7 linked regions of the Homo sapiens genome follow. The protein of the gene in region 7 purifies or fractionates together with the protein of the main gene of each other region. This does not show direct contact. Each region holds a gene or a part of one and is shown on either strand. Other genes may lie near its edges. The genes, in order: RNF138, HM13, UBE3C, PSMF1, SULT1A4, C11orf58 and PSMB2.

Region 1 (3,500 bases), on a different chromosome or scaffold from region 7:
GGAAAAATGCATGCAGCCTTGCTAGCAACTAAAGAAATACATTTTAATGTGACTTCTAGACACCACTATGAACTGTATTAAAATAGCATAAAAATGCTTAAAAAAACAAAATTGGCAAAGATGATGGATTACAAATATACTTTTATAGTACTAATGGCATTTTGTAAATTAGCTCAATTTTTGGGAAAGCAACATGACATTTATGAAAATAGCAGTTAACACTTATTGCGTACATAATATGTGCTAGGTGCTAGGCTGGATCCCAGAAACTATCCATTCATGATCTTGAATTCTTAAAAAAAAATAAATTTTTCTTAATAAGTTCCTTCATTTTACAGATGAGGAAACTAAGGCTTAAAAAAATAAAATGTTAATAAACCTGTAAGAGTGAGGCAGGCAAATCACTTGAGGTCAGGAGTTCAAGACCAATCTGGCCAACATGGTGAAACCCTGACTCTAATTTAAAAATATATATATATACACAAAAATTAGCCAGGAGTGGTGGTGCACGCCTGTAATCCCAGCTACTCAGAAGACTGAGGTAGAAGAATGGCTTGAACCTAGGAGGCGGAGGTTACAGTGAGCCAAGACTGCGTGTGCCACTGCACTCCAGCCTGGACAACAGAGCCAGACTCTGTCTTTGAAAAAAAAAAAAAAAAGAAACCTATAAGAGGTTGAAGCCCAGAAGATGTTTCTGTCATTCAAATACAAAGCCCTGCATGTTCCCTCCTACCTCGGGACCTTTGTCCAGAATGTTTCTTCTCCCCAGAATGTTCTATGCACGAGCACAGCCCTCCACAAATTAATACCTATATCTCTCTTAGATATCAGCAACAATATCACTTCCTAAAGAAAGGGTCATCGATACTCACCCACTAGATCTGATCCCTCTCTTATACTCTCTCGAAACCTATACATTTGTAATTACACCATTTTTCTGAGCATTTATTTTAATTTAAATATATCTCAGGCCAGGCGCAGTGGCTCAGGCCTGTGATCCCAGCACTCTGGGAGGCCAAGGCGAGCAGATCGCTTGAGCTCAGGCATTCGAGACCAGCCCGGCCAACATGGTGAAACCCAGTCTATACAAAAAATACAGGCCGGGCGCGGGGGCTCACGCCTGTAATCCCAACACTTTGGTAGGCCGAGGTGGGTGGATCACCTGAGGTTGGGAGTTCGAGACCAGCCTGACCAACATGGTGAAACCCCCGTCTCTATTAAAAATACAAAATTAGCCAGGCCTGGTGGCGCATGCCTTTAATCCCAGCTACTTGGGAGGCTGAGGCAGGAAAATCGCTTAAACCCGGGAGACGGAGGTTGCAGTGAGCCGAGATCGCGCCATTGCACTCCAGCCTGGCCAACAAGAGCAAAACTCCGTCTCAAAAAAAAAAAAAAAAAAAAAAAAGTTAGTTGGGTGTGGTGGTGGCACATGCCTGTAGTCCCAGCTACTGGGAAGGCTAAAGGGGGATTACTTGAGCCCAGAGAGGTCAAGGCTGCAGTGAGCCATGATCATGCCACTGCACTCTAGCCTGGGCAACAGAGCAACAGAGAAAGACCCTGTCTCAAATATATATATAAAATAATAAAATAGAGGTATTCAGGTCTCTTATGTCCAATTTTACTGTTCCTTCCCCTGTACAACCAAAGATTTTATATATATATATATATATATCTCAATCACTAACACCCAGCTCCAAGAGGGCAGGGATCCTATCTATTTGCTCTTTACAATATCCCTGGCACCTAACAGTGCTAGGCACCTATTAGGCAGTCCTAATATTTGCTAAAGCAATGAATGCCAATTTACCTTAATTTAAAAAGTATTAAATCCCTTAACCAAAAGATATAATTGACAGTTCTCAAATCAAAACCTTGAGCACTTTCCATGAACAAGACACTTCACTAGAGCTGCAATTATTCTTGTGTGATGTATCAGAAATATTTGTTTGTATCTACCCTTTGACCCAGCAATTCCATTTGTCAGAATTTAGCTGGCAGGAAAAACTCTCATATGTGAAACGATATATTAGTAGGCTTAAGTAAGTAACAGGAGATCTTGGATGCTTTCTTTATAAAGCTTGCAGCCTAACCAGTGAAACTGACATTGGTCAAATTATCTGATTCCAAAAATGTTATGATTACAAACTGTGATAACAGGTACAAAGAATGGCCGGGTGCAGTGGCTCACACCTGTAATCCTAGCACTTTGGGAGGCCGAGGCGGGGCAGATCATTTGGGGTCAGGAGTTGGAGACCAGCCTGACCAACATGGTGCAACACCATCTCTACTAAAAATACAAAAAAATTAGCCGGGTATAGTGGTGCATGCCTGTAGTTCCAGCTACACGGGAGATTGGGGCAGGAGAATCTCTTGAACCCAATGGGTGGAGGTTGCGGTGAGCCAAGACTGCACCACTGCACTCCAGTCTGGGCAACAGAGCGAGATTTTGTCTAAAAATAAAATAAAATAGAGATATTCAGGTCTCTTATCTCCAATTTTACTGTTCCTTCCTCTGTACAACCAAGCATGTTTCTTCAGACATAAAACGAATTATTCTCATCTCACTTTGGGCTGGAATGGATCAAAGTGCTAGACAGAACTTATTTCAAAACAAAGCAGAAGTAGGAAGGAAAAAGGTACAAATCAAGAATTACTAAAACTAATTTTCATGTTCCTGAAAAGGCCCGTATCTTCAGAACAGGGCATTACCCTATAACCAAAAAAGGTCTCTTTACATTTCTCTCAACTTTAAACTAGCAGATGCTAGACGAATTTCCATTACGCATTCTCCCAACAAAAGGCTAATCAACAACACTGGGAGAGGAAAAACAATATTCCCACTCATCATGCTCCCAATTTCAGTATAAATTAAATAATTTAAAATCTGGCACTTAGTCTATCTATTTTCCGAGTCGATAATCGAGATCATTCCCCAAAAAAACTTCAAAAAAAAAAAAAATCAAAGGTTGTAAACTAGTCCTCAAGATTTAAAATTAAGTAAATCTTTTTTTTTTTTTTTTTGAAACGGAGTCTCACTCTGTCGCCCGGGCTGGAGTGCAGTGGCACCATCTCAGCTCACTGCAAGCTCCACCTCCCGGGTTCATGCCATTCTCCTGCCTCAGCCTCCCGAACAGCTGGGATTACAGGCGCCTGCCGCCACACCCGGCTAATTTTTTTGTATTTTTAGTAGAGACAGGGTTTCACTGTGTTAGCCAGGATGGTCTCGATCTCCTGACCTTGTGATCCGCCTGCCTCGGCCTCCCAAAGTGCTGGGATGACAGGCGTGAGCCACTGCGCCCGGCCTCAACCTTTATTATATAATTAAATAGCACAGATTTTAGGAAAGAAGAAAATTATTTTAAAGTATATACTTAGAGCATAACTACTCAAGTAACAAGATACCAATAAAGCTGTTAAAATTACAAAGCCAGGTGCTGTGGCACTCACCTGTAGTCCCCACTACTCAGGAGGCTCAGGTGGGAGGACTGCTTGAGACCAGG
Region 2 (3,500 bases), on a different chromosome or scaffold from region 7:
AAGCAATTCCATCTGTGGGAATTCTCCCTACAGATATAGTTCATAAATAAGTAAAATGCTACACATAAAGTGTATCCAAGGTATTCCTTGCTCTGTTAACGGCTTGCTGAGTGACTGGGTTTACTTCTCTGTCAAACAGGAGGACAATCTCTAGCCTCACTTCAAAAAAGGTCCAAGAGCCTTCTTTTTTTTTTAAAGAAAAGTGACAGGGTCTCTCTCTGTTGCCCAAGCTGGAGTGCAGTGGCAGGATCATAGCTCACTGCAGCCTTGAACTCCTGGCATCAAGTGATCCTCCTGCCTTGGCCTCCCAAAATGCTGAGATTATAGGCGTGAACCACCACACCCAGCCCCATAGGAGTCTTAAAGCAAATAAGATATGGGATGCGAAACAGCCTGGCAAACTAAAGTACTGTGCCTGTATTGGGGGTTGTGACTATCAGGGAGAGGTGAGTGAGGAGGCCCCTAACCACACCCTTGCCTATGCATGGCTGAGGCAGCCCAGGCTCTGGGCTGGAAGGGAGACCCTCCCCTCTGGAGCCACTGGAGGCAGCTCCATGTGAGTCACTTGGACAGCTTTGCTAGGAGGTGGGAGTGGGGTGGGTGAACAATACCCACATGAGAGGCCCAGTTTCCTTCCTTCCCTATTCTCTCCCAACCCTTGGCTTCTGCTTTTGCCAGCAGTGTGCTGTGGGACTTGGGCAAGTTCCTCATCCCCTCTGAGCATCTCCACACATTCAATACATTTCCTGTGTAGCAGTAGTATGGGTACAAAAATGAGTTCCTGATCTTGAAACACTCACAGGCAGGTAGGTTAATACTGTGACATGATACATATTACAGGGAACACGTATTCTATTTTATGGAATGCACAGCAAAACTGGCTGGGCGTGGTGGCTCATGCCTGTAATCCCAGCACTTTGGGAGATGGAGGCGGGCGGATCACCTGAGGTCAGGATTTCGAGATCAGCCTGGCCAACATGGTGAAACCTTGTCTCTACTAAAAATACAAAAATTAGCTGGGCGTGCTGGTGTGCATCTGTAATCCCAGCTACTTGGGAGGCTGAGGGAGGAGAATAGCTTGAACCTGGGAGGTGGAGGTTGCAGTGAGCCGAGACTGAGCCACTGAACTCCAGCCTGGGTGGACAGCGAGACTCTGTCTCAAAAAAAAAAAAAGACCAGCCTGGCCAACATGGTGAAACCCCGTCTCTACTAAAAATACAAAAATTAGCCGGGTGTGATATTGTGCGCCTATGGTCCCAGCTACTCAGGAGGTTGAGGCAGGAGAATTGCTTGAACCCGGGAGGTGGAGGCCGTAGTGAGTGGGGATCGTGCCACTGAACTCCAGCCTCGGCAACAGAGCGAGACTCTGTCTCATAAAAAAAAAAAAGCCCCCCTCCCAAAAAAAACCCCAAACAGGCTATTATAATGTAGTGTGACACATGATGCAATAGACATGTATATCACTGTGACACACAGTATGAACATCAGCAGTTATGAAGGGACTCTGAGATCAGGAAGTCCATTTGGACTCCCAGCTCTACTTCCCAGCTGTGGGACCTTGGGAAAGTGATTTTTTTTTTCTCTAAGCCTCAATTTCCTCAGCTGTAAAACAAGTTGTGAGGATTCTGATTTCTGCTTTGGAAGTACTCAGCATTGTATCTCGAGTCATCATTTAAACCGTATACACCATTTGTATCATTATTATGCAAAACGGAATCACGACACAGCCAACAAGACACTATTTCTGCAGAGAAGTAAGGGAGTCAGAGGTGGCAAGAGCAGGTACCACTTAAGCAAGGCCTTGATGGTCAAGCACAGTGTCTGGTAGTCTGGAGCCAGACAAATGCTGACTGGGTTTAGGAGTCAGCTTGTCAGTTTTTTTTTTTTGTTTTTTTTTAGTGGAGTTTTGCTCTTTTTGCACAGGCTGGAGTGCAATGGCACAATCTCAGCTCACTACAAATCAAGTGATTCTCTGCCTCGGCCTCCTGAGTAGCTGGGATTATAGGCACCTGCCACCACACCCAGCTAATTTTGTATTTTTAGTAGAGATGGGGTTTCACCATGTTGGCCAGGCTGGTCTCAAACTCCTGACCTCAGATGATCTGCCTGCCTTGGCCTCCCAAAGTGCTGGGATTACAGGTGTGAGCCACCATGCCCGGCTTGAGGAGTGTGCTTTGTGTACAAGGAAAGGAAGTGCTTATCAGGCAGAAAGATATGCACATGCAGAGGCTCAGGGCTGTCAAAGGACACGCAGGACTCTGTGGCTTCACCTACAAACCAGCATTATGGCTCATTTCCACATATTCCTTTCAATTCAGCTCAGCACCCTGGGTGGGAAGAGGCCTAATCTTATTCAGTGACAAACCAAGGTTGGACAGATCCTCTCCATTACACAGAGGACTCTGGTCTCCTTTGCGGGTGACTTATAAATATCCCATGCTGCAATGCTGAGTCAGAATGGGAGACTGGACTGTAATCCCAGCACTTTGGGAGGTCAAGGTGGGCAGATCGGTTGAGCCCAGGAGTTTGAGACCAGCATGGGCAACATGGAGATACTCTGCCTCCATTAAAAAAAAAAAAAAAAAAAGAATGGGAGACCTGAAATCTGACGATAATAGTAATAACAATAACATTACTGCACTGTTCTAGGTACTTTACATGTTTTCATCCTCACAAAAACCCCACAAAGCAGGTACTTTTTTTTTTTTTTTTTGAGATGGAGTCTCGCTCTGTTGCCCAGGCTGGAATGCAGTGGTGCAATCTTGGCTCACTGCAACCTCCGCCTCTTGGGTTCAAGCAATTCTCATGTCTCAGCCTCCCGAGTAGCTGGGACTACAGGCATGTACCACCACGCCCAGCTAATTTTTTGTATTTTTAGTAGAGACAGGGTTTCACCATGTTAGTCAGGATGGTCTGTCACAAGATCCTGACCTTGTGATCTGCCTGCCTTGGCCTCCCGAAGTGCTGGGATTACAGGCGTGAGCCATCACGCCTGGCCAGCAGGTACTTTTAATAGCTCTTTTACAGATGAGGAAGCGGAGGTCTAGAGAGGTGAAGTAACTTGCTTAGTGTCACACAGCTGGTGAGTGGCAGAGCCAGGACTGAAACTGAGGCAGTCCAGTTCCAGACCCCAAACTCTTGGGAGCTGTTTCCTAGAAGATTTCTATCTTTCCTATCTGGAAATTTCGGTTGGAAAGTTTTAACAGGAAGATACTTGGGAAGCCTGCAACCTTTCTGAGGAACAGAATCCTGAAGGTAACTGAACAGCTAATCTTTGTAGTTACAAAAATACTAAAAAGTTGCTAGGATTCTTTACCAATCCAATTGCGATTTTTTAACCAGATTTGTGTATGTAAATACAATAGATCCTGCAACATAAAACACAATTAGAAAGTGGGGGAAAAACCTGACACAAACAGCAGAAGTAAATGTAGCTTCCAGTGACATTCTGGATGTTGTTATCAGAGCGGAAACAAAAGCTGTAAGAGAGGACAGATGCC
Region 3 (3,500 bases), on a different chromosome or scaffold from region 7:
CACCGTAATAAAAATCATTTAAAAAAGGAAGGGAGGGAGGAATGGCAGAATGAAAGAAGGAGCTTAGGAGAGCCTCAGGCGTGCAGTGTGAGTATCCTCGTGGGTCTGGGGAGGCGCTGCTGACGAAGGAAGCACTGGTTCTCTGTAGGGGTCTGACCCCAGCATCAGCTTCAGCTCAGCTCAAAGCCAGCGGCACATTCAATCGCATAGAGAAGTTTACTTCGCAAAAGTGTCTCGTCATAGAACTCGGGGAGCTTCAGCAGGTTCATGCAGGTGCTGGCTGTGGGGAGCCGCTCAAGGTCGGAGCCTCCGTTGTGAATACAAAATGCGGGATACAACTCCTGAAAAACAGCATGTGTGCAAGATGTCACTGTAACAAGCATGGCATTACATGAGTTTTAATACAAAGTACACAAAATGTGCCTGCTCCAATCAGTAAAGTTACCATTGCAGTCACATTTTCCCGAAACCACATTTGCTTTGTTGTTGTTGTTTGTTTTCTTTGAGATGGAGTCTAGCTCTGTCGCCCAGGCTGGAGGGCAATGGCGCCATCTCAGCTCACTGCAACCTCTGCCTCCCAGGTTCAAGCGATTCTCCTGCCTCAGTCTCCCAAGTAGCTGGGATTACAGGTGCCTGCCACCATGCCTGGCTAATTTTTGGATTTTTCCTAGATAAGGGGTTTCACCACGTTGGCCAGGATGGTCTTGAACTCCTGACTTTGTGATCTGCCCACCTCTGCCTCCCAAAGTGCTGGGATTACAGGCGTGAGCCACCGTGCCTGGCCCACATTTGCTTTTTTAAAAAATTACATTGATGGCTTAGTTCTAACTTACATAAAAGATTATGCACTGTGCTTCAGGCATAAAAAGGGATAAATAACATTCCAGGCCAGGCGCATAGCTCACACCTGTAGTCCCAGCACTTTGGGAGGCCTAGCTGGGGGATGGCTTGAGCTTAGGAGTTCGAGACCAGCCTGGGCAACATAACGAGACCTCATTTCCACTAAAAATAAAAATCAAAACAATTAGCCAGGTGTGGTGGTCTGCCCCTATACTCCCAGCTACTTGGGAGGCTGAGGTGAAAAGATGTCTTGAGCCCAGGAGGTCGAGGTTAGTGAGGTATGATCACACCACTGCACTCCAGCCTGGGCAACACACAGTGAGACCCTGTCTATAAAAATTTTTTAAAAAGGATCAAGATTTATTCTATCTTTCCTGTACAAGCTATTACTCGGGTTAACCAAATCATTGGTGAGAAGAAACAAAGCTGTTTTTAAATAGAAAATTCCAGCTAATAAATTATACAATTATGTAATTAGAACACGGCTGTTTTAGAAGCACATTAAACAATGGATCTAGGCAGTGATAAGTGACCACTAAAATCAAGAGGAATTCTGACGCAGAGATCGATCCCAGCATTGTGGGGAGATGACTCACGAGAAGTGGATCTCCACGATGATTAAGGGAATGGGAAGCATACGACATTACCTATGTGATGTTATTGCCAAAAAAAGAAAAATTCAAATTTAGAATCTGATGAGACCTCTATCAGTTTTCAAGAGATACAAAGAAGCAACCCAGTTACCCTATTATTTTTATTTATTTATTTTTTTGAGACGGAGTCTTGCTCTGTCACCCAGGCTGGAGTGCAGTGGTGCAATCTCGGCTTACTGCAACATCCGCCTCCCGGGTTCACGCCATTCTCCTGCCTCAGCCTCCCGCATAGCTTGGACTACAGGCTCCCGCCACCACGCCCGGCTAATTTTTTGTATTTTTAGTAGAGACGGGGTTTCACCATGTTAGCCAGGATGATCTCGATCTCCTGACCTCGTGATCCACCCGCCTCAGCCTCCCAAAGTGCTGGGATTACAGGCGTGAGCCACCGTGCCCGGCCCCAGTTCCCCTATTCATTAAATTACAAGACGAAATTGAGGGAGGTAGAACATCTATAGACCAAATGCATGATGAAAAGTGGCTTGCTTGTGCCAGAATTTAAATAATTGTTAACAAAAAAGAAAGATGATCAGGGAAATTTGAATATTGTTTTTCAGATGTGTTCATGACGTTCTGGTATTTAAAGGTACAGTGTGAAAATTCTCATCCCTGTATCACAGATACCCAGTTCCCATTCCCACTGGCAACCAACGCTTCAGCGTCTTAAGTGCTCCCAGAGATGAAATGCACGCATGAGAAAATGTTCTCCCTCCTTTAGGTTTAAAATTGAGACGGTGAGCACATTGGACACAGTATTCCGTGCCGTGCTTTTCTCATCTGATAATGGGTCTCGCTCATCTTGCCTATTAATGGTGAGGCTATATGGTGTTCCATGCACACGCGCGGCACGACGTGTTGCTGGGCACTTCTCTCAGCTTTTTACAAAAAATGATGCAATGAATACGTACCTGGTTTTCACAGTTGTGCAAATGTATCTGTAGGCAAAAACCGTGTTAGGGATTGCTCAACGCAGACTTAATGCATGAGACCTATGGGCGTGTCGGTCCTCTGATGGCCACGAAGAACCGGTGACTCCACCTTCCTCGTATACACAAACACCATTAGCTATTTGCCTCACATTTGAGATACGTGATTTATGTGTTCTCTTCCAACAGGAAGACAATAAGGCACAGATCGCCCTCAGTCTGCTCACTGTCGCAGCCTGTGCAGATTTAGTATCTGGCACGGGTTTCAGAGACCTAGCTAGGTCAGCCCTTCCCTGCACACGTGTACACGAAACTCTCTGAGAGGTGGGCCTGGCAGCAGGAGCAGGGGCTTCACCCACATTCACAACTCCTGGGACTGTACTCTAAGAAATAATTAGAGATGCACATGATAATTTATGCACAAGAGGTTCACAGCATCACAACGAAGGAAGAGCTGTAAACAACTAAAAAACAGAAAGTAAACTGGTAAATCACATGATGGGACACTACAAGCCCATTAAAAATATCTCAAAGAATAACATGAGGAAAAATGATCCTGATGTAATGTTGAGTGAAAAAGGTAGCCTAGAAAACTGAACACAAGATACAGCTAAAATTATATTTAAAAATTACGTGACCAGGAGCAGTGGCTCATGACTGTAATCCCAGCATTTTGGGAGGCCACAACGGGTGGATCACCTGAGGTCAGGATTTCTGAGACCAGCCTGACCAACATGGCGAAACCCCATCTCTACTAAAAATAAAAAATTAGCCGGCTGTAGTGGTGCATGCCTGTAATAATTCCAATTACTCGGGAGGCTGAGGCAGGAGGCAGAGGTTGCAGGCTGCAGTGAGACGAGATCACGCATTGCACTCCAGCCTGGGCAATAAGAGTGAAACTCTGTCTTAAAAATATATATGTTTGTGTGTGTGTAACAGGCTGAGCATGTTGGCTCACACCTGTAATACCAGGTGTGTGTGTGTGTGTGTAACAGGCCGAGCATGTTGGCGCACACCTGTAGTACCAGGTGTGTGTGTGTGTGTAACAGGCCGAGCATGTTGGCTCACACCTGTAGTACCA
Region 4 (3,500 bases), on a different chromosome or scaffold from region 7:
TACTGCACATAAGCCCCAGAGGCACTGATCCTTGGACAGACTCAGGGGCTCTGTGTGGCCCCTAGAAAGAAATCAGGCAGGCTTAGGATTTTGGGTAATTAGGGTGACTAGTAGCAGTTCAAGAACTCACTGCTCCACTTACGTCTCCACTTTCTAACTCCATGCACCCCAAGACACTGATCATTTTGTTGAAAACACATACGGGCCAGGGATGGGGTCAAGTGGCAGGATGGGGATAGCTGGCTGGAATCCCTCTACAGAAGCATGGGCTTCCCGCTAGGCACTCTGTACTCACCAGGGAGGCTGCCGACTGGTGTGTGGGTGGTGTGGAGGAATCCGGAGTGGGTCCACCTCTCTGGCGGTAGCAGGGGGGAACTCCCGGTGGGGACTGCTTACATTAGCCTTTTCCCACTGCTCATGGATAGGTGTGATGATTCCAGACACAATACGAGACCGAAGCTCCTCACTGTTCTTGTAGGTCCTGCAGGAAGCAGATGAAGAGTCAACTGCTTGCAGTTGGCTAGGAACCCTGGAAGTGGTATTCTGGCTGCAACGACGGCGGCGGCGGCGGCCCTGATAGCTCCTGGCATTGCGCTTGGCCTGTTTATAAGTGGGGGAACAGGCCGCCTGCTGGACCTGGGTGAGGGGGGCAACAGCCCCACGCTGTCTCTGAGATTTGGGCCCAAGCTTCTTAGGCATCTGAGTTGCCCCTCCTTGTTTACCACCCCATTAGAAAGAGGTGAGGGTGTAGGGGCACAGGGCCTGGATTGGCTACTCCTCTGTCCTCACCCGCCTCACCCCTCCCTCAGCTTCATTGTGTGTTCATCACGTGTCATGGGAAGGGTCATGGAAGGCAAAGGCTCCATGGGGAGGATGAACCAGGTTCCTGTTCCAGGCAGGCAGAGCTCTGGGGGTTCAAGGTCCAGTTCTGTCACTAACTCAGGGGTCCTCGGAAGGCTGCCCCTACCACCTGTCCCATCCTGCCTGGGCCTCTTTTTCTATGCCTGTGAGAGACAAGTGACGTGAGCCACAGCTGAGGTGTGGAGGCAGGCTGAGGTAACAGAGTGGGCAGGACTCCAGGCTTCCTAAAACACTGGTATTTTAAAATGAACCACATCCTGGCCCATAAAGCAAAGCTCACAAATGTAAAATAACTGAAATCATATAAAGTATGTTCTCCAACCATATGGAATCATAACAGAAATCAAAACAAAAAGTTAACTCTCTAAATACATGAAAATTAAGCAACATACTTCTAGAAAATCCTTGGATCAAAGTCACAAAAAAGAAATATATAGCACTGAATTAAAATGAAAATAAAAACATACGAAAATATGTGGGATATAACTAAAGGATTGCTGAGAAGAAACCTCATAGCACTAAATGCTTACATCAAAATAGAGGAAGGAATTCAAATCAATAACCAAAATTCTGACCTAAAGAACCTAGAAAAAGAAGAGCAAATTAACTCAAAGCAAGCAGAAGTAATAAAGGTAAGAACAGAAGTCAATAAAAAAGAAAAACAAGAGAGAAAATGAAACAAAGTCAATTCTTCAAAAAAAAAGAATAAAACTGACCAACTCCTGGCGAGACTGACAAATACAAAGAGAGGACACAGTCACCAATAACAAGAACGAAACAGGAGATATTACAATAGATCTGTAGCCACTGAAAGGATAATAAGAGAATACTAAGAACAACTTAATCCAACAACTCAGAATAGACCAATTCTTAAAAACCATAAACTACAACTCAGCCAAAATGAAATAGATAATCTGAATAGTTCCATTAAAGAAACTGAATTACACTTAACATTCTAAAAAAATAAAATAAAAAAACAAAAACCAAAAATCTCCAGGCTCAGATGATTTCAGGAAGAATTCTACCAAACATTCAAAGAAGAATTAACACCAATTTTACAGTCACTTCTAGAAAATATATGAGGAGGGAATACGTTCCAATCCATTTCATGAGACCAGTATTACTCTGGTATCAAAACCAGGCAAAGACTACACCAAAAAAAAAAAAAAAATATATATATATATACACATATATAGACTAGTATATCCTATGAACTTACACACAAAAAAAATCCTCAACAAAATATGAGCAAATTGAATTTAAAAATGTATAAAAAGAACTATATGCCATGACCAAGTATGATTTGTTCTAGGCATGCAAGACTGGTTAATAGTCACAAATCAATCAACGTAATCTACCATATCAATAAGCTATGGAAGAAAAATCATATGATCATATCAATTGATACAGAAAAAAGCTTTTGACAAAATCCAACATGATAAATCCATTCAAGATTAAAAACTCTCAACAAACTAAGAATAAAGGGGAACTTCTTTAACCTGATAAAGAACATTTACAAAAAACCTACCCCTAACAATATACTTTACTGTGAAAGACTGAATGCTTTGCTCCTAAGATTGGGAACGAGGAAAGCATATTCTTTCTCATCACTCTTATTTAACATAATATTGGACATCCTGACCACTGCAATAAGGCAAGAAAAACAAAAGGCATTCATATTAGCAAGTAAGGAATAAAACTGTCCCTATTTGCAAATGACATGATAGTCTACCCTGAAATTCCCAAGGAATCTACCAAAAAAAAAAAAAAACAAAAAAACCCTAAACACCTTGAATTCAGCAAGGTGACAGGATAGAAGAGTTCAACACAGGAAAATCAACTACATTTCTACACACTAACAATGAACATTTGAAAACCAAAACAAAGGACAGAATATGCCATTCATAATCATCTCCCTTTCTGCTTTAAACAAATAACAAGCTATGTACAGGATCTATATGTTGAAAATTACAAATGATACTGATGGAAATCAAATAAAACCTAAATATTAATAAATGGAGAGATAAGATATATCATGTTCATAGCAAGAATGTCAATTCTCCCCAAACTAATCTATAGGTTTAATGCAACTCCTATCAAAATCCTAGCAAGGTTTTTCATAGATATACACAAGCTTACTCTAAAGTTTATATGAAAAGGCACAGAGGCCAGGTGCGGTGGCTCACGTCTGTAATCCCAGCACTTTGGGAGGCTAAGATGGGTGGGTCACGAGGTCAGGAGATCGAGACCATCCTGGCTAACATGGTAAAACCCCGTCTCTACTAAAAATACAAAAAATTAGCCAGGCATGGTGGCACGCATCTGTAGTCCCAGCTACTCAGAAGGTTGAGGCAGGAGAATCACTTGAACCCCGGAGGCAGAGGTTGAAGTGAGCCAAGATCACACCACTGCACTCCAGCCTGAGCCTTTTTGAGACACAGTGAGACTCTGTCTCAAACAAAGAAAAAAAAAAAGAAAGAAAAAAGAAAAAAAAGAAAAGGCACAGAACCTAGAATAGCTACAACTACCTTGACGAAGAAAAAGTGGGAGGAATTATTCTACTCAATATTAAGGCCTACAATAATCAATACTGATAGAGTAATATTGACAGAGGAAGAGACATAGAGATCAATGGAAAA
Region 5 (2,554 bases), on a different chromosome or scaffold from region 7:
GGTGAAGGCCGTGGATGGGGATGAGCAGTGGATCCTGGCCGAGGTGGTCAGTTACAGCCATGCCACCAACAAGTGAGTGACACCAGCCCCGGGGCTGCTCTCTGCCCTTCCTGTCCACCTGCCCCACAGCCCCAGGAGGACTATTCTATCCTGTTTGAAGACACCTCCTATGCAGACGGCTACTCCCCTCATCTCAGTGTGGCCCAGAGGTACCTGGTAGCTTCTAAGGAGCCCAAGAAAAAGTGACGCTGCCCGGCGGACTCGACGTCCTCCACCATCTTGGGGCAGGACAGCAGAGGATGTGCTGGGATTAAACAGACATCCCCCCTCCACACATCTCCTGGGTTTTACTTCTCCAAACCCTTCTCCCCTCCCCAGATATGGTGACCTGGGGAGCTGAAGGCTGGGGGAGAGGTGACCATATGTGGCCCCACCGGGCATTCACTCTTTCAGCTCAGAGTTTCTCTTCCTTTCCAATACAGGCTCTACATGAACACAAATCATATTTTATTTTGAGCTTTATTTTCTTTGGAGGGAGGGTCTTGCTTGTCATCCAGGCTGTAGTGAATGGGCATGTCATAACTCACTGTATCCACAACCTCCTGGGCTGAAATGATCCTCCAGCCTCTGCTTCCCAAGTAGCTGGGACTACAGGTAAGTGCCAGCACATGTGGCTAATTTTTTTACATCTTTGTAGAGATGAGGTCTCACTATTTTACCAGGCTGGTCTCAAATTCGTGGCCTATTGTGATCCTACCAGCTCAACCTCCCAAATCGCTGGGATTGCAGACATGAGCCACTGTGCCTGACTCAAAAATCATACTTTATTCTTGAGCCCATTGGTCAGGGTAGATTCGCACACTCCCTCTGCAGTGACTCCAGGAGCCCCTCTCACAGCTCAGAGCGGAAGCTGAGGCTGCAGCCTGCCATCTTCTCCGCATAGTCCGCATCGAAGCGCTCATTCTGCGCCACGGTGAAGGTGGTCTTCCAGTCCCCAGCCATGCCTGGGGGAGGAAGGCAGGGAGCAAAGCTGGAGTCTCATCCCAGGGGAGGCCCCAAGTGCCTATGGGGAGGCTGCAGCTGCTGCTCCCACCCGCCCCAAACCCCCGTGCTGGCCAGCACCCACCTTTCCTCATGAAGGGGGAGATGCTGTGGTCCATGAGCTCCTGGGGGACGGTGGTGTAGTTGGTCATAGGGTTCTTCTTCATCTCCTTGAACGACGTGTGCTGAACCATGAAGTCCATGGTCTCCTCTGGCAGGGAGCGCCCCACAAACTCCAGGATCTTTTGAATCTCCCTTTTGGGGTTCTGAGCAGCAGAGGGCTCCTCAGTGGAGCAAAACAAAACGGGTCCCCCTCTCTAACCTCAGAGGGGATCTGGCCACTTCCCCTAGAAACCCCAAAGAGCCTCAACCCCTGGGGCCCTAGTCTCTGGAGTAAAATGAATTGATCTCTGCCCTGTGATCCCATCATGAACAGGGCTTGGCGCCTATGGGTGAGGACCGGGATGGTCTTCTTCCATGACTGTGGCCCTGGGTGGCACACCCTTTGGTGAGGATAAGCAATAGGACTAAGTATCTGATCCGTGGCCACCCATGCAGCTGACTCAGGTGCAGAAGATGAAAGCTGTGCCGAGCCTGCTGCCAGGTGGGGCTGCAGTGGGGGGGCCTGGGCCAGGGAGGTAGGATGGGGAATCCGGGCTTGCTGTGGGAGCCGCCCAGGGACGGGGCTGGGTGGCCTTGGTGGGTCCCTGTGAGGTGCCTGCCCCCAGGTGTCACATGGGGGGAAGCATCACAGTCGGTCTCACCTCCTTCATGTCTTCATAGAAGAGGTAGAGAACAGGGTGGGTGCGGCTCAGCTCCCACCACTCCTGCACGTGCTGGTACCAGGACCCGTAGGACACTAGAGAAGCGGGCAGGGGGCACCGACACAGGGTTGCTGTACGTTATAGCCACCACCCCTCGGCTTCACACCCTCCTTCCTCCAGTCAAGCCCACCTTCTCCAGCCATGAACTTTTCCAGGAAGCTGTCCCAGGTCCCAGGCTCAGGGTGCGCCTTTTCCATACGGTGGAAATGGTAGTAGGAGACCGCCACGTCCTTTGGGTTTCGGGCAACATAGACCACCTGCAGGGGCAGAGGACCCAGCCCCAGCACCATCACCACACAGCCCACCCCAGGCCAGCTCATCTGTTGAACTGGCAAAGGAGGAACCTGAGGCTTAGAGGCTGACTTGCTTGAGATCTCACTGCACAGGTAGGGCCAAGCTGGGATCTGAACCCTGCTCGGAAGCCAAAGTCCTGCCTGGTTCCTGAGACCATATTCTATACTAATATAATCTGCACCAATGCCATCATATCCTGATCTGGAGCAAGGCATGCCTGGTCCCCACCAGCTCCCCCTCCTCCGCTGACCTGTGAGCACCCACATGCTGCCTTTCTTAAGTGTGCACTGTAGAGACTCACTATCCTTGCATCAGACCCTCATCAGAGCAAGAGGCAGACAGTGTCCTCTCTCAAGATGTGATGAAGGCTGGGCGTGGTGGCTCATGCCTCTAAT
Region 6 (3,500 bases), on a different chromosome or scaffold from region 7:
CAGCCTCCCAAGCAGCTGGGATTACAGGTGTGAGCCACCACACCAGGCTAATTTTTTTTTTTTTTTTTTTTTTAGTAGAGACACGGTTTTGCCATGTTGACCAGGCTGGTGATTTGCCTCAAGTGATCGGCCCACCTCAGCCTCCCAAAATGCTGGGATTACAAGCATAAGCCAAGGTGCCCAGCATTTTTTTCTCTCCTTTTTTTTTTTAAATTTAAGAGATGAGGTCTTGCTCTGTAGCCCAGGCTGGAATGCAGTGGTGCAATCATAGCTTCATTGCAGCCTCAAACTCCTGGGCTTAAGTGATCCTCCCACTTTAACCTCCCAAATAACCGGGATTACAGGCATTAAGCCACTGCACCCAGCTCTAATTATAATATTTTAATAATTTACACAATTACATGCCAAAGTAGAATATCCTGAAACATGAACACATACTTCATATTCTGAATTTAGCACTTCCATTTTAATTACACTTTACTTTCTTACCGGTTCGGAAGTGAGATGTTGATTTGTGATCTCCTATAACAAGACGACCAGTATGTTCTTTCTATAAGAAGGTTGAAAATGTATTAGCATTTGAGACCACTAATTTAACCTTATTGGGTATCTACTATGTGCTGAAAACTATTCTAGGCTTCTGGGACACAGTGAAGACAAAAGATTAAATTAGAATCTCTGCCTTTAAGGACCTTACATTCTAGCAAGGGTAGGAATGGGGAAGGGAGACAGGCAAACGTAATCACTATTTATACTATGTTAGAAAGTACTAAGTGTGATTAAAACAAAACAGACCTGAGTAAGGAGTAGAGCAGGTTGGAATTTTAAATAAGATGAATAGATAACTAGAAAATTGAGTCAATCTAAACATTTTCTTTCCTAAAGGCCAGTTAAATGAGTTGCTTTAACTTCCCACCTGCTCTTTCTGCTGCCTCAAGTATATCTCATGGAGAGAAAGCAAATGAGATTTAGCCTGACAAAAATGAAATAATTGAAACTTATAATGTATCATATAAAGTGATAGATCTTATTACAGTATATCACAATCATTAGCTATCTCTTTACTATTTGACAATAAACTACTAATCTCAACTTGTCAAAAAGAACAATTTAAAACAATCCTGTACTCTAAACATAAAAATACATATGATTCAATATTACCAACTGATTAAACTGCATAATTACTCTCAATTTAATCAGTCCAATCCACTCTTTATGGTTCATATTTAGTTTCATAAGTGCTCATTAAAACACCATGTGAAGGTGAGAATAAATGTGACTTTGGAAAGCAATCTTAACCAATCATCTGTGAAGATACAGTAACAAACCTTCCTATTGTGAAAAAATGGCAGATACAGTCTCCATACACAAAAATGATACTACCGAAAAACTTCAAGTGTTAATGCTCATTGCTTTATGTGCCATTAACACATAAGCAAATCAATAATTCAGTGTGTTACTAGTTTAGGTTGCAAAACTGACAGCCATTAACAAGATTTTAATATAACAGCATCAAGTTATTCCAGGATGATGACAGTATTGCACTGATCTATTCATATGTTCTTAGCTGGTTCTTCCTGTGACCAATAAAATATTCATGATAGCCGGCTAGGATTACAAATATACTTTGTGGCCACAAAATGGAATACCTCTAAACACCCCATATGAAGATCAAAGCTACAATCTTGGCCTCACAAAGAATTTAATCTATGGGCCAGGCGCAGTGGCTCATGCCTGTAATCCCAGCACTTTGGGAGGCAAAGGAGGGTGGATCACGAGGTCAGGAGTTCAAACGGTGAAGCCCTGACTCTACTAAAAATACAAAAATTAGCCAGTCATGGTGGCAGGTGCCTGTAATCCCAGCTACTTGGGAGGCTGAGGCAGAGAACTGCTTGAACCCGGGAGGCAGAGGTTGCAGTGAGACTGTCTCAAAACAACAACAACAAAAAAAAGAGAATTTAATCTATGCTGAACAACCTATTTACTAGTTAGTCAACTTCCATATATTTTATATTAGGATGTTCTTCCTAAGTACTTGAATAAGTTTCATTCTACTAAGTTGAATATGGCCCCTAAACTAACACTTACCTTACATATCCTTAACAAATCTTTTAAGTCCTCACTTAATTTTCAATGATAGGTTCTTGGAAACTTCGATTTTAACTGATTTTAGTTGAAACAACCTATAATGAAAACAATTTTCCTCCTTATCAGTGTTACAGTGAAACAACTTTATTGTCAGTTTGCCAAAGGTTAGTTTCCAAGAACCACAAGGGATGTTAAGTGAGGACTTAATATATTTGCATGAAACAAGAGAAATTGCAGACTATTTTCTATGACAAATTACAAATTGGGAAATCTCGATTAATGAGATATTATACAAATGCTTTATTTAAATAGGTCTCAGTGTTTTACATGACCTCTTCCTATCCCCAAACCTACTGTTGTAGTCTGGCTAACTCCTTCTCATCCTTTGAGATTCAGATCAATTCTATTTTGGGGAAGCTTTCTTGCACTGCTAAACCAGAGTTAGCTGCCCTCTGTGATTCCACAGCACTATGTGCATGGCTTTCTCACAGCAATTACAATTCTGTATTGCTATTATCTGGTTTCCTCCATTACATAATAGCTTCAAACATGTATTATTGATCTATATGACCACCCAGGATCCAGCACAGTAGTAGGTAGTCTGTAATTGTTGGGAAAATGAATGAATGTATTCCCATGTGCATAACAAAACAAAGAGCAGAATTTCATTTTAATGTGCTTAAAAAAAGAGAAAAAAAGCTTTCCTATTTCTTTTCAATTTAGTTTGTAGGAAGTCTGTTAGGACAATGTTAGGAAAATAAATTTACTTGCTTACAAAAACTAAGTATCTAGAGATCCCTGTATAAACTGCTAGGATAAAGAAAGGTTTTTACAATAGATATTTTCCTGGCACTTGTTTTATATAGTTGACCCTGAACACAGGATTAAACTGTGTGGATCCACTTATACTTGAATATACTTCTGCCTCTGCCACTCCCAGACAGTAAGACAATCCCTCCTTTTCAGCCCACTCAACATGAAAACTATGAAGATGAAGACCTTTATGATAATCCACTTCCAATTAATGAAGAGTCAATTATTTTCTCTTCCTTATAATTTTCTTGATAACATTTCCTTTTCTTTATTGTAAGAATACAGGATATAATACATTTAACACCCAAAATATGTGTTAACTGATAATTATGTTATCAGTAAGACTTCCAGTCAACAGTAGGCTATTAGTAGTTAAGTTGTTGGGGAGTCAAAAGTTATATGCAAACTTCTGACTGCCTGCAGAACCAGCACCCCTAACCCCCACATTGCTCAAGGGTCAACTGTACCTTCTATTAACGTTAACCAAACTGACAGGCATTTCAAAGTATCTTGAACATTTTTAAAATTAAGGTTTTCTTTCCCCCTGGTGTTCTACACATTCAGAGAAACTTCTCTATCTAGTAACAAACTATAGAAAT
Region 7 (3,500 bases):
TACTCTAGTGGTAGAGGGTACCCAAACAGCAGCTGGAGGATGACTGGGAGGCAGGGAGGCTGAACTGGGAGGTGCAACTAAGAGCCTGTCTCTGGTCAGTCAGCTGACGAAAGAATGAGACAATCCAGTGTTCTGTTCCCCATAGTCTGTTACCCATCAGTCTGGTAAACACAGACGTCTCTCTTAAAATGTCTCAAGATAATAAGCTAACAAAGAGTGATTGTCCTCAGAACGAAGCAGAGGCCAGGAGCTGTGGCTCAGGCCTGTAATTGGGAGGTTGAGGTGGAAGAATATCTTGAGCCCAGGAGTTCAAGACCAGCCTAGGTAACATAGCAAGACCCCATCTCTTAAAAATAAAATGAGCTGGGCATGGTGGTGCCTGTCTGTAGTCTCAGCTACTTGGGAGGATCGCTTGAGTTCCAGAAATCCAGGCTGCAGTGAGCTATGATGGTGCCACTGCACTCCACTCCAGCCTGGGCAACAAAGTGAGATCCATCTCTTAAAAAAAAAAAAAAAAAGCGGGGGGTGGGGTGGGCACTGTGGACTGAAAACAAAAGGTTTGTGTAAGAAGCAAACTGACATTACTCCCAACGCTCCTGCTCTTATCTTCCTACTCTCTTACTAAACCACGAGGTCAAGTTCATCCTTAAGCCACAGGAACAGTAAAAGAATGAAAAAAACTAATGTGGCTGGTTTTTGACCTCCCCATTCCCCCATTCTCCATCTATACCCAAAGCCTTAGACTCTAAGGAGTAGTGTTAGAAAGGGTGTGTTCTGTAATCCTGTCCTCGCAAGCCAAAGTCTACTCTCCCCTTCTGCCCAAAGCTTCCTAGTTGCTTTCTATGGTCCTCCTGAATTCTTAGGGGAGGCTTTTTCTCACAGATTACAAAGACTCGAGCACTATTAAGGGAGCAGGCAGTATGGCAATTACAGGTGGCACAAGAACAGAGCAGGTATAAAGTCTAGGGCAGGGATGGGCGTGGTGGCTCATGCCTGTAATCCCAGCACTTTGGGAGGCCGAGGCAGGCGGATCACCTGAGGTCAGGAGTTCAAGACCAGCCTGGCCAACATGGTGAAACCCTGTCTCTACTAAAAATACAAAAAACTAGCCGGGCATGGTGGTGGGCAACTGTAATCCCAGCTACTCGGGAGGCTAAGGCAAGAGAATTGCTTGAACCCAGAGGCGGAGGTTGCAGTGAGCTGAAATCGTGCCACTGCACTCCAGCCTGGGCAACAAAAGCGAAACTCCGTCTCAAATAAAAAAATAAAGTCTAGAGCAGAAGTTCTTCAAGTACAGCCTCAGTTACCACCTGTAGGAAAATCACCTGGGACTGCCAGTTAAAGCAGAGCTTCCCAGTTTGTACCTCAGAACAGTGGACTCAGAATTGAGGGTTGGGGCAGAGATGGCAATCTGTTTAACAGGTTTCCCAGGTGATACTTACACACACTAAAATTTGAGAACCACTGGTTTGGATAAACCAGAAAGAATTAAATTATAAAACTGACATTGAGGAGGTAATCTGTGAGAGAAAAGTGAGCTTGCTATCCACACCAAACTCTATCCCTGGTAGCAACTTCACATCTGGTTAGTGGGTATGTATTACACCTTCTGGCAAAAATCTGAAAAAATATAACTGAGGAACAGGAACAACACTGGCAAACAGAGAGACAAACATTCCTTTCAGGATCCTATGGGAACTACTCACCTCCTCCAGACATTTCCTAAGGAGTTCCACTGCCCTCTCACGTGAGATAGCTGAAAGAGAACACAGAGACCAAATACTTCCGGTGCTGTCATTATATCCAACTCTCAGAAGCTTTTGATTAAGTTCCAAATCTGGCTTCTTCAGGTCTCAGTGCCACACAAACGTAAAAGGCAAAAAATGCTTTGCCTTCTAGCCTGCAATCAACTTACTCCACATGCAGCTGGGGGGGCCCCAGACCCAGTGCTCCAGCAGCTATAAGCCATTGCAAATTGATTTGCTACAGTAAAGGGTGAGCATGAAGGAATTCTGCCTCCCCTGGCCAGGGCCCACCTCTGAAGAAGTCCAGCAGCCTGTCTCTCTTTATCATAACCCACCCCTTTCACTCCCCCTTAGTCCAGGGTTTGAATCAATTCCATCTGCCCCAGTCAGCTGCAAATCAGGGAAAGAGACGATGGGGTCAGAATTTCAGCCTTGTTTTCCCAGCTGGGTCTCTGTTTAACAATGGGAAGAGAATTCATAGGATGGGGCTGAGACTCTCCCCAAATAGGAGCCAAAGGAACTGTCTGTGGGCGTGGCAAACTGGGACGACATGTTATGCACTCAGGCTTCAGGGGTGGCTAGTAGTTATTTTGGTGGGCAAATCAGCTGTATTACTGACAGATGCCAAATCAAGAAAGTCACTGGGAGGCCAGGCTAATTCTTTTCAGGATGTGGCCTGGAGCTCTAGCGTGGCTAAGGTTGAGCGAGAGGGCAGCACCAAAAAAGAATGAACATGCCAGATTCTTACGATACTGACAGTGAAGAATGGAATGTAAGGAGAGAAGTGGTTATCTGTGCTTCATCTATAGTCTGTAAAAGCTAAGAATTCCAAAGTACCCACTGCCCACAGAGGCTAAAGTCGAGGTTAGGACTGGGGTCAGAAGATGGAACTTAGCACAAAAGCATCCCTGTGTCTAGGAAGTCCTAACCAGAGCACTTAGGCAAGGGGAGGAAATAGAGTACCCCAATTGGAAAGCAGGAAGTCAAATGTCCCTATTTGCAGATGACATGATCTTCTATATAGAAAAACCTAAAGACCCCACCAGAAAACTCTCACATCTGATAAATGAATTCCATAAAGTTGCAGGATACAAAATTAATATACAAAAATCAGTATTTCTATACACAAACTAGCTGAAAAAGAAATCAAGAAGGCAATCCCATTTACAATAGACACAAAAATCAAAGAAAATAAAATACCTAGGAATAAATTTAACCAAGGAGATGAAAGACCTCTATAACGAAAACTATAAAACACTGATGAAATAAGCTGAAGAGGATACAAGCGAATGGAAATACATCTCATGCTCATGGATCAGAAGAATTAATATTATGAAGATGACAACACTACCCAAAGAAATTTATATATTCAATGCAATCCCTATCAAAATGCCAATGACATGCCTCACAGAATTATGGAAAAAAATCCTAAGATTTGTAAGGAACCACAAAAGACTCTGAATAGCTAAAGCAATCCTGAACAAAAAGAACAAATCTGGTAGTTGATACCACTACCAGACTTCAAAATATATCACAAAGTTGTAGTAACCAAAACAGTATGCTACTGGCATAAAAATAGACACATAGACCAATTAAACAGAATAGAGAAATTAAGAAATTAAGCCACATATCTACATTTGACTTTTGATGAAGGTACCAAGAACACTCATTGGGGAAAGGACAGTCTGTCTCTTCAATAAATGGTGCTAGAAAAACTGGATATCCATACACAGAAGAATGAAACCAGACCCTCAC

The links.
Region 1: the proteins of PSMB2 (region 7) and RNF138 purify together in Homo sapiens (affinity purification with mass spectrometry, with the first as the bait; one large-scale study listed by BioGRID). This does not show direct contact.
Region 2: the proteins of PSMB2 (region 7) and HM13 purify together in Homo sapiens (affinity purification with mass spectrometry, with the first as the bait; one large-scale study listed by BioGRID). This does not show direct contact.
Region 3: the proteins of PSMB2 (region 7) and UBE3C purify together in Homo sapiens (affinity purification with mass spectrometry; one large-scale study listed by BioGRID and IntAct). This does not show direct contact.
Region 4: the proteins of PSMB2 (region 7) and PSMF1 purify together in Homo sapiens (affinity purification with mass spectrometry; 2 studies listed by BioGRID and IntAct, with this or other methods). This does not show direct contact.
Region 5: the proteins of PSMB2 (region 7) and SULT1A4 fractionate together in Homo sapiens (co-fractionation; one large-scale study listed by BioGRID). This does not show direct contact.
Region 6: the proteins of PSMB2 (region 7) and C11orf58 fractionate together in Homo sapiens (co-fractionation; one large-scale study listed by BioGRID). This does not show direct contact.

What each region holds. Positions count from the first base shown.
Region 1 is NC_000018.10:32,098,374-32,101,873, reverse strand, and holds part of RNF138 (E3 ubiquitin-protein ligase RNF138), read right to left. Parts: intron 1-3,500. UniProt on the Homo sapiens protein: E3 ubiquitin-protein ligase involved in DNA damage response by promoting DNA resection and homologous recombination.
Region 2 is NC_000020.11:31,520,942-31,524,441, reverse strand, and holds part of HM13 (signal peptide peptidase), read right to left. Parts: intron 1-3,500. UniProt on the Homo sapiens protein: Catalyzes intramembrane proteolysis of signal peptides that have been removed from precursors of secretory and membrane proteins, resulting in the release of the fragment from the ER membrane into the cytoplasm.
Region 3 is NC_000007.14:157,264,426-157,267,925, reverse strand, and holds part of UBE3C (ubiquitin-protein ligase E3C), read right to left. Parts: intron 342-3,500; coding exon 171-341; 3' UTR 1-170. UniProt on the Homo sapiens protein: E3 ubiquitin-protein ligase that specifically catalyzes 'Lys-29'- and 'Lys-48'-linked polyubiquitin chains.
Region 4 is NC_000020.11:1,132,102-1,135,601, reverse strand, and holds part of PSMF1 (proteasome inhibitor PI31 subunit), read right to left. Parts: intron 482-3,500; coding exon 296-481; intron 1-295. UniProt on the Homo sapiens protein: Plays an important role in control of proteasome function. Inhibits the hydrolysis of protein and peptide substrates by the 20S proteasome. Also inhibits the activation of the proteasome by the proteasome regulatory proteins PA700 and PA28.
Region 5 is NC_000016.10:29,462,913-29,465,466, reverse strand, and holds the end of SULT1A4 (sulfotransferase 1A4), read right to left. Parts: intron 2,123-2,554; coding exon 1,996-2,122; intron 1,901-1,995; coding exon 1,806-1,900; intron 1,308-1,805; coding exon 1,127-1,307; intron 1,005-1,126; coding exon 892-1,004; 3' UTR 501-891; downstream 1-500. UniProt on the Homo sapiens protein: Sulfotransferase that utilizes 3'-phospho-5'-adenylyl sulfate (PAPS) as sulfonate donor to catalyze the sulfate conjugation of phenolic monoamines (neurotransmitters such as dopamine, (R)-adrenaline/epinephrine, (R)-noradrenaline/norepinephrine and serotonin) and phenolic and catechol drugs.
Region 6 is NC_000011.10:16,745,147-16,748,646, reverse strand, and holds part of C11orf58 (small acidic protein), read right to left. Parts: intron 551-3,500; coding exon 490-550; intron 1-489.
Region 7 is NC_000001.11:35,603,527-35,607,026, forward strand, and holds part of PSMB2 (proteasome subunit beta type-2), read right to left. Parts: intron 1,757-3,500; coding exon 1,707-1,756; intron 1-1,706. UniProt on the Homo sapiens protein: Non-catalytic component of the 20S core proteasome complex involved in the proteolytic degradation of most intracellular proteins. This complex plays numerous essential roles within the cell by associating with different regulatory particles.